Linked DNA regions of Homo sapiens: region 2 is linked to region 1. A link means that fine-mapping ties the variant in region 1 to the expression of a gene that starts in the linked region. Tissue or cell type: blood mononuclear cells. Region 1 holds a variant in brackets; the other region holds the start of a gene. All regions are shown on one strand. Distances are from middle to middle.

Region 1 (5,205 bases):
AGCAGTTTTCAATCAGTATGGTTACTTGCATGCAAGACTGAAGGAAAGGATATAGTTTTAAAGCCAACAGACCTGTTGAATGAAAAAAAATTCCGTCTTACTTTAAGAAATTATTCATTGCTGAGCCCTGGACATTTTTATCTGGTTTAATACACTGCATAGATGTTTCTCTTTCTGTCCACATGCTTGTCTTTCCAGTCCTTTTAAAAAAATATTATATTTCAGTCCCTCTTGTGAGAGTTGAAAAACTGTCTTTGCCTACATGAACATAAAGTCCTGCTAAGGAAGATTGTGTTACTAAAAACAAAAGGGGCCAGACGTGGGGGCTCACATCTGTCATCCCAGCACTTTGGGAGGCCAAGGTGGGAAGACTGCACAAGCTCAGGAGTTTGAGACCAGCCTGGGCAACATAGCGAGACTCCGTCTATATAAAACAAAAACAAAAACAATTAGCTAGGCATGGTGGCTCATGCTTGTATTCCCAGCTGCTTGGGAGACTGAGGCAGGAGGACTGATTGAGCACAGGAGGTCAAGGCTGCAGTGAGCCATCATCACACCACTGCACTCCAGCCTGGGGACACAGCAAGACCTTATCTCAAAAAACAAAACAAAACAACAACCACAAACCAAACGGTAAGGGTAGGCGGGATGGGGATAAGAAGTGAGCTACCGATAGCTTTCATTTATTCTGTCCTTAGAATTCTGTCCTTAGATGATCTTTTCAAACAAAGTATTTCAAAATATGTATTCCAACAATAATTTCTTTCTTTCTTTCTTTCTTTTTTTTGAGACGGAGTCTCGCTCGTCACCCAGGCTGGAGTGCAGTGGCTCGATCTCCGCTCACTGCAAGCTCCGCCTCCCGGGTTCACAGGATTCTTCTGCCTCAGCCTCCCGAGTAGCTGGGACTACAGGCGCCCGCCACTACGCCCGGCTAATTTTTTGTATTTTTAGTAGAGACGGGGTTTCACCATGTTAGCCAGGATGGTCTCGATCTCCTGACCTCGTGATCTGCCCGCCTCGGCCTCCCAAAGTGCTGGGATTACAGGCGTGAGCCACCTCGCCCGGCCTCCAATAATAATTTCTAAAATCCAATGTGTATACAGGTTTTAAAAACATTTTTTAATGATTGGACCAAAATTTTGACTCCCTTTTTGTATTTTAATATGAGTTATCTATACAATAGTTCAAAGTTGGGACTAGAAAGTAATTAGTCTTTGACTATCTGGACTTTGGTCTTTCTCGTATCTGGGCTTCAATTTTCTCATTTGGAAAATGAAGATTGGATGAGTTGATTTTCTAAGGTCTATTTCTAATGGAGTTGAATGAAAAAGAAAAAGGCAACTTAGGATCTTTGATAACTGGAATAAAAGGAGGCACACGCTTTGAATTACACAGAGATGGATTTGAATCTCATATTTTATTAGCTGCTGGAAGTTAGATTTTATTTTACTTAGCTATAAAGTGGAACTAATTAGGAGCTGTACTGAGGGCTGCTGGGGTTTAAGTGGGAACAATCCTATAATGTTCCCAGGATAATATGTATGCACCTATAAATGGTAGGACCATATTAAGGTCAGACAAACGTAAGGCTGAGCACATGACTTGATCTAGTAATTTCCACTCTGGCACTTGGAGAAGAGAGTGAGCATATCACTGTTCCTTACCAGCAGAGATGTCCCTCTGCCGTGATGAAACTGGAGCTGTCATGATTTATAAAAAGAACACCATCAGGGCAAAGGCGCCACATCTTGGCAAGAAATGCTTCACATAGTTTCCATCGTCACTAAGCTCTCCTTCCCACCCCGCACCCTGCTTCTATTTAAATCCCAGGCACTCCACTGGACCACACTCATTTTAGCCAGTGTCCAGGCTATCAGCAGAGAAAGACAGGTGGGCAGCATGGCTCCGGGCGAAAAGGAAAGCGGGGAGGGCCCAGCCAAGAGCGCCCTCCGGAAGATACGCACAGCCACCCTGGTCATCAGCTTGGCCCGAGGTTGGCAGCAGTGGGCGAATGAGAACAGCATCAGGCAGGCCCAGGAGCCTACAGGCTGGCTGCCGGGAGGGACCCAGGACTCACCTCAAGCTCCTAAACCAATCACACCCCCTACTTCACACCAGAAAGCTCAGAGTGCCCCAAAGTCGCCACCCCGCCTGCCAGAAGGACATGGAGATGGACAAAGCTCAGAGAAAGCCCCTGAGGTTTCTCACATCAAAAAGAAAGAGGTGTCCAAAACGGTGGTCAGCAAGACTTATGAGAGAGGAGGGGACGTGAGCCACCTCAGCCACAGGTACGAGAGGGATGCTGGTGTGCTTGAACCTGGGCAGCCAGAGAATGACATTGACAGAATCCTCCACAGCCACGGCTCCCCAACGCGGAGGAGAAAATGTGCCAACCTGGTGTCTGAGCTAACCAAGGGCTGGAGAGTGATGGAGCAGGAGGAGCCCACATGGAGGAGTGACAGCGTAGACACAGAGGACAGCGGCTATGGAGGAGAGGCTGAGGAGAGGCCCGAGCAGGATGGAGTGCAGGTGGCTGTGGTCAGGATCAAGCGCCCCTTGCCCTCCCAGTAAGTGAATGCATTCTCCCACTCCTTGTGTCAGGATCACTATTGAGCCCCAACCAAGTCTGGGAATCCAGGCAGCAGATGAAGTCCTGCCAGGGTTAGAGTGAGAATCTCAAAGACTGGACAGGCAGTGAGTACTGTAGAGGAGGGATGTCCCTGGGCTGAAGGTCAGTGCCAACCTTAGACATGGACCTTTTGGTCAGGGCCTGCGCTATTTTGTTTCTCGTTTTTGTTTTGAACTGAACACTCAAGTCTTAGCCTCAACAAAGATGAAGCCATCAGAGAGGGAAGCCTGTTTTTCGTGAATTCTTTAAGTCAGTTCTATAATGAGTAACAAATTGGCTTATTTCTTTAGAGATAAGAGTGGTTTCTGATAGACTCATTGGGGAAACTTTTACCTTGTCCCAAATGTCTATGCTATTATCAGGAGATACGTCTGCTTCAATAACACCCATGGAATACAAATCTCTGACTCTAAACAGGTGGAGGCTGCTGTCTAATTTGAAAGCAGGCTCTGAATGAAGTCAGACAGACCCAAGTTCAAATCCTAGTTCTGCCCCTAACTAGTCATTTTTAAAGGTGATTTCATCAGCTGGGCGCAGTGGCTCAGCCTGTAATCTCAGCACTTTGGGAGGCTGAGGAGGGCGGATCACTTGAGGCCAGGAGTTTGAGACCAGCCTGACCAACATTGGTGAAACCCCATATCTACCAAAAAAC[A/T]CACAAAAATAGCTAGGCACAGTGTTGTGCATCTGTAATCCCAGCTACCCGGGAGGCTGAGGCATGAGAATGGCTTTAACCCATGAGGCTGATGTCGGAGTGAGCCAAGATCATGCCACTGTACTCCAGCCTGGGCAACACAGCAAGACTCTGTTTCACATAAAAATTAAAAAAAGCAGATTTCCTCATTTGTAAAATGACAGCAACAGTAAGCTTTTGGGAGAAGTTCTATTGTATTGGGAAACGTAAATGAGATTAGGGCTACCAAACACAGAGCTTGTCACATATGCTCAATACACGAAAACTATTATTATTCACATAGATTTGGTTACTTTGCAACTTTTCAAATTTTCAAAAACAGTTTGTCCTATTTGTAAACAAATACAGCAATAATTAAAATATCTAGATGGTAAATACACATACATACACTCACATACACATTTACTCAAACTGAAACATGTATATAGACAAGAAACACGTGCTTTATTTCAAGACAGTAACTCCACATGGTAGAAAGTCAGGATTTCTTATTCCACAATGCCAGGGTATCAAAATATAAGAAAAATGTCTGATGTCATTACATTTATAGACTGACTCCCTTTGGGGACAGTTTGATGTGCAAGTGTGTTTTTCAAGTCTTATGAAACAATAAGAAAATAAAGAAAAAAATTGTTACCTAATTTGACAAAAAGCTGTTCCTTTTTTTTTTTTTTTGAGATGAAGTCTCACTCTGTTGCCCAGGCTGGAGTACAGTGGCACGACCTCGGCTCACTGCAACCTCCATCTCCTGAGTTCAAGTGATTCTCCTGCCTCAGCCTCCTGAATAGCTGGGATTACAGGTGCACACCACCACGCCCAGCTAATTTTTGTATTTTTAGTAGAGATGGGGTTTCACCATGTTAGCCAGGCTGGTCTCGAACTCCTGACCTCAGGTGATCCACCCACCTCGGCCTCCCAAAGTCCTGGGATGCATGAGCCACCGCACGCGGCCTAAAGAGCTGTCTTATAGTTTGAGACTGTAAAGGTGTTTTGAAAGAATTAGAACTACTACACTGCCAGCTCTCAAGAAAAATAAAATGGCAAATGGGTAATTACAATAATCTGTCACGTGTTCAGTGTGTGCTGTAGGTGTTTAAATGCTTTGTCGCTTCACTTCTCATAATCCTTTGAGTAGCTATTCACTCATTTCAGGGATAAGAACACCAAAGCTCAGAGGGGAAGTTTGCCCAGCAAATTAGTGACAAAGCTAAGACGTGCCCTACTCCAAATGCAATGTTTTAAAACCAGACATGGTTCCAACCTTCATGCAGTGTCTTGAGGATGCATTCAGAGGTCTGGATTTGTGCTTAATGTAGGAGTTCATGATCAGAAGTAACTATGCTATCCGAACATGAGGAACCATATTCCAAACTCTGGCCTTTTGGATCTTGGGACATGTGTGCTAGAAATGGAATAACGGGGTCCAAAAGAATAAAGACTGAGGGGGCACAATGACAAGATCTTTCTCTCAGCACATTTTAAATTAACTAGAAGTAAGGAGGTGACAGCTGGGACCGATCCTGAATGCATAGTAGAGCTAGACATTCTTTGGCACTTGTCTAAGCACTTTTCATATATTTATTTATTTAATCCCACAATATCCTCATATGATAGGTTATAATCATCATCCCTCTTTGATAGATGGAGAAAGGAGATGAAGAAATATTAGGGAATTTGTATGAGATTTTACAGCCCATGAAATTTGAACTCAGTCATTCTGGCTCTGAGTAAACTGTCTCACCTAAAAGTGGGGAGTGGGATACAGGACCCATCTTGGGGTTCCCCAAATCAGGCTGGCACATGGGCACCTTCTTAATGTGTTGAAATGCCTACGCTTGGAATAAGAGACAATTAGATTTGAATCATGGTTACTTTGGTAATCCTG
Region 2 (5,228 bases), 500 kb after region 1:
GGAATAAGAAGACATGCCCTGGCCATTAGAACCATGCTGTCCTCGCTCTTGTGTCCCTCCACGGGACAGACATCACCTTGCAAGACAACTCGTGCCACTGTCCCCAACAGTTTTCCACAGAGTTCTTGTTTCCCTTCATCTGAATCTTCTCTGTGCAATTTGATGTCCTGAACTATTTCTGACGGTTGCACACAAGATCTCAGGGACTGGACCTTTTAGTTATGAGACCAGCCCTCTTAGACAGCAGACAGTAGGTACAGTGCTTGCTCTCCCTTCTTTGCATCCTTCCAGAGTTGCCTTCATCCTCATTTCCTGCATCTGGTAAAGTCTCTCTGAAAATGTGAAACCGACGACAGAACATGGCAAGCTGGATGGAGAAGCCGACAACCCCTCCCCCACTCTCACCCAACGCCGGGCCGGTCCTGTTTCGGATCCTGCACACTGTGGAAGCTTCTTGCTTCCTTGTTTTGGTGGGTGAAATCTTTGCTGTTCAAAAAGGTGTTTTTGCACAGAAATTTTAGGACGTGTTTATTCTAGTAACGTAGTGTTTTCTTTTTTCGCTATATTTACATGTGGAGAACTCCAGGGAGGCCCCCACCAGAGATCCCTTAAATGCTGGTCTCTGTCCCTGCTTCTCGGCCCCGCTGGCCTTTTGGAGCCATCGTGCTTCCCAGTCCGCAGGCAACAATCACAGCATCACCTGCAAGGGGCAGCAAAGTGAACCGCGGACCCCTGGAGTGACGCCTTGGAGATGGACCCTTTGGATTTGGGAACCCCTCTGACGGCCGGGACTCCCAGGATTCCCTTCCATAGAGGGAGTCCACGGTGGTCGCAGCCGGCGGCTGAGTCCTCCTTAGAGTGCCGAATCAGAGAAGACCCGCATCAGGTTTGGGATGTAAGTGGAGAGGGAGAGGTTAGAAAGAGGCATCATTGGATAAGCAAAGAATGCTACCCTGGGAAAAGGAGGCAGAAAAGACGTAGGGAAGTATGTTCCCCTTAATCCCTTCCCCGTGCCGCCCGTAGATCCCTGGATCTTCTTGTCACGGAGACAGGCTGCAGCCACACACGCGACCCCGGGCCGGAAACATGCACACGCGCGCGCACACACGCACACACACGCCCCGCTGCGAGTTGCACGCTGCAGACTTCTGCCTGACTTCCCGGCCAAAAACACCGCACCTCTGGGGCCAGACCACGAATTCCTGTGGCCTAGAACTGACACCACTCCCCCTACCCCCGCAATACACACATTCAGACCCTACACTGCACCCTGAGCGTGCCGGGAACCACTGAACGGAAGCCCGAGCAGCTCCCCCCGTAAACGACTACCTTCCCCACTGCCTAATGTCTATTTAAATCTCCTAAAGCTCGCCTACAGCGAGCCGAGGTGCGTCCAAGCCGGGTAGTAGACGGAGGAGGAGCCAGGGGTGAAAGTGAACCTCAGATAACAGTACTAAATCACTATTCAAGGGGCGGCACGGGGAAGCCTCCAACCCTCTCCTGAACCTTTCAGGCCCTACCAGCAGCCCAGTTCCTCCGCCCGATACTGCACAGCTCCCCCCCTCTTCACCCAAATCCCTCAGCGATTTTCCAGTCGGCCCTCCAGGCCACTTTCTACATCCATCCTTTCCCCAGCCAGTTCCCAACATGTGGCCTCGGGTACTCTAGCGGGAGACAGATTCCAGGCTGACTCCATCATGATGTGCCCCCTAGCCTTTTACTGATTCCCCAAATTATCCGAATCCACTCGCCCCTCCGGAGCCCACTGTCCCTTCCACCGGCGTCCTTTGCTCTCGTCCAAATCCGCTTTCCACGCGCCCCACTTTCCACCCATCCTCCTGCCGTTCTGTTCAAGACACGCTTGCCCTCCACTCTGCGCCCCCAACACTGCTCTCACGCTGCTCCCACTCTATCCCCCGGCGACACCCCCACTTTCCTTCTGCGGCTGTCCCTGGCCGGGCTCCCGCGCCCCAAACCCAGCCTCCCCGCCCGGTCTCCTCCCTCGCCGCCCGGTCTCCTCCCTCGCCGCGCGGTCTTTCCTTCTTCCCAAGTCCGCCCTCTGGGCCCCCGCTGGAGCTAGTTCTGCCCTCCTGCTCTGCCCGTCGTCCCCGCTCGAGCATCCCAATGGCCACCCGCTTTCAAATTGGCTAAGTGGCTCGGAGAGGCGCCAGGCACAGGGGGCAGAGGCCAGCCGGCTCTCCCGGGCGCCAGCCGCGCCTCTCGCTATCCCTCCTGGACTCCCCCGGGCGCCAAGCCCTCGCCCTAACGCCCAGCAGCCTCACAAACTTACTTGCGGGTCGCCAGGAGGGGGCTGCGGTGAGCGGCGGCGGGCCCCGCGGCGGCGAGTGCGCCCCTCTCGGCGGGGCTGGGCGGCGCGGCGCCGGCGCTGAGCTCCTGTGGCCGCGAGGTGAATGGGCTCAGCCTGACGCAGCCCAGCTCTAGCCCCGCTGCTGCCGGCGCCGCTGAGCGCTTGCAGACATGCTCAGTTTCCGGACCTGCCCGCGTGGAAGCTACCAAGAGCCGGCAGCGGCGGGGGAGACTGAGAGGAGCCGTGGGGCGCCGCGAGCCGGAGGCTACCACGCCGGGGGCGGGGGGAGGCACGCACCGCTAAAAATAGCTCCTGCGGAAGCCACGCTGGCTTAGCGCGCACCCCTCCCCGCGCGCGGCCCCTCTGGCTGGGGTTCGGGTTTCTGCTCTGGCTACCGCGGTGGGGACCCCAGCTCGCCGAGTCCTGCCAGGCGTCTGCCTGCACTAGGATCCCCATCCCGGTGGAGACGGCGCCTCCAGTTCAGGCGCCCACTCGAATAGCCTGGACTAAGCCAGAGCTGCCCCGATTTCGGGGTCCCGCCTGTCGGGCAGCTCTAATACTAGGCTCTCCCTAGAGAAGCAGAGGAAAGTTTTGTTAAAGCGATAAAAAAGCTTCTGCAAGGAAAGCTGCAAGGAAATTTGTTCAGATTTACGGAGGAAAAAAATGTTCTTCAGATGCTTTGGTTGCTGGGAAAAACAAGGAGGAAAGGAAGGCGAAGTCTGACAGCCTAGAAAGGGACCCAAGGCAGCTTGGAGCGGGCTGAAGGGGGTTCTGCAAAGAGCTTCTAAAATTCAGAATTCTTTGCAAGGCGTTTGTGACTCCTCATTCCGCAGTGTTTTGCATAATTCGTTGACACCCCACCCTGACCTTGGAGATTTTCTTGTTCCTGTCACCTGAACTGTAATTTACTTTCTCCGCATGCTGCCTTCACTCCTTCCCCCTCCAACCCGGTTTTAAATTGCAAAACGAAAAGGGCGCAAACTCTGGATGGGTAGATTCCCAGACCTGAACTGGAACCTGGCTGTTCTGTAACCCTGAGGAAAGGAGCTGGTCCTGTTGCCGAGTTCGGGATGTATCCCAGATCTCCTGTGCATCCAGCAAACACTTCAAGCGTAGGAGCCTTTCAGCCACCTCACCTGCAAATTAGCTATTTCCCGCTATTAGTGTTCACTCTATTCTACCTTAATTTCTGATCATTTATTATTATTTTTTAATTCTGTTCTTTAAAGTAAGAGGTACAGATATTTCCTGGGTCAAATTTCCGTCTTGTTTCACTCACCTCTCACAGCCACCCAATGAGAGAATCATTATTATTCCCATTTGACAGACAGGGATGTTGAAATTTAGCGACAGGAGCTCATCGCTTGTCTGGAATAATAGAGTGTTGAACCTAGGGTCGGCCAGACTAGAAACTTTCATGGTTTCCGCATAACCTATTTCCCCGAGTCAATAGCTTTACCTGAGATAAGGGATCAAGAAAATTAGATACTATTCTGAGTGGCGTGGCGTGTCAACAGTAAGCCGATTGATAAGCCGATTGCGGGTTTTGTTCTCCATTATTTTTACCTAATTTCTTTACGAGCATTCGCAGCTTAAATTTTCTGTTATGTTGAAACTGATAGCGTTTAATTTTTATTCTATCAGAAAGATTTTACTGAGAATCTTCTACAAGCAATGTATAGACTAGGTATGTATTTTATAATTATCTCAGTTCAGACTCTGTGATAAAGCTACTTTGTTTTCCCAGTATTATAAATTAGTTAGACTTTGCTAACCCTACTAAGTAATGTACATGTGATTTTTTCATAGAACTGTAGTGGAATCTGTCTATTTGGGTCAAGATGTCCTCCCTCCTAAGATATTTGCGCCCTTCCATCCCCACTTGCAATTTAGTGCCATGTGCACCCCAAAATAAGTAATCAATTAAGGTTTGATCTTTTACTTTTTTACTGAAGCTGCAAATATTATCTGCAGGACCAGGGCCACTTTATAATGACAACATCATGTTTCTAATTTTCCATAGGTGATTCATTGGGAGATCAAAATGTGAATTTCCTTAGACTATCAACACAAATCATTCCTTTCTATCAGTGGTGAAGGAAGGTGAAAAATAAACTTTACTTTCATCCTGGTTGCTTTCATTCTTCCTCTTTCAGTAATTATTCTTAAGGTGGTATGGCACTCTGAACATCTTCATGCTACAGCATGCACACTACCCATAATCATGAAACAGGGAAAATCTTGATTTCAAAGTCTCTTTGGTGTCCTATGGAAAAGTGTAGCTCAAAAACGTACTGCATTGAGGACTCGAAGTAACAAGTGACAGGGATGCAATTCTAACTTAGGCAGAGAAAATGCATTGACCCGTGTAACTCAGAAGTACTAGAAATAGCAGGGCTTGTCCTGGGCTTAACAACATTAGGAAGAATATGATTTTCTCTTTCTCTAACTTGCTTTCGGCATTGCTTCCTGTGTTGGTTTCATTCCCCTCACATTATGTCCATAGTGCCAGCCCTACACAGTTGACAAATTTTGTAACCTTACAAAGAAATCAAGTCTCTTGTTCTGTTGAGCAGATCAATCTTTGAAGGTGTACTCTTATTGGCTGTCCTGGCTCACACAATCAACCACCTGCATCCTCTTGGGGATGAAAGATTCTCAAAAGGGAAAAAAGTATTTGGTTAGCAAAAGAAGGAATAGGGGATGTTTGCAAGATGGAAATAATGGATAACCAGTAAACTCATAGACTGGCCTGTTTCCCCATGGACAAAAAAAGGACAGCAAGTGTGTTGGGAGGTCCGTTGGTTTCAGTTATTCAGAAATGAGCAAGATAATAATAATGCTTTGAAGTGAACTTTTCCCATCTCTTTTTAGGCTCAGTTGCTTTGATTTGCCTGCCTAAGGGTAACAGAGAGTCCCC

What was found. PIP is the estimated chance that this variant, and not a neighbour inherited with it, causes the effect.
Region 2: OXR1 starts here. The variant in region 1 is fine-mapped to the expression of OXR1 in blood mononuclear cells (TOPMed, PIP above 0.99).

Annotation. Positions count from the first base shown.
Region 1 is chr8:106,766,885-106,772,089 of GRCh38, reverse strand. ABRA (actin binding Rho activating protein) reads left to right here and starts at 1,846. Exons shown (of 2, transcript NM_139166.5): 1 at 1,846-2,567. The coding sequence starts at 1,900. The variant A/T (reference allele first, on the strand shown) is at 3,282.
Region 2 is chr8:106,267,430-106,272,657 of GRCh38, reverse strand. OXR1 (oxidation resistance 1) reads right to left here and starts at 2,468. Exons shown (of 17, transcript NM_001198533.2): 1 at 2,291-2,468. RefSeq lists silencers at 2,114-2,473, 2,494-2,743.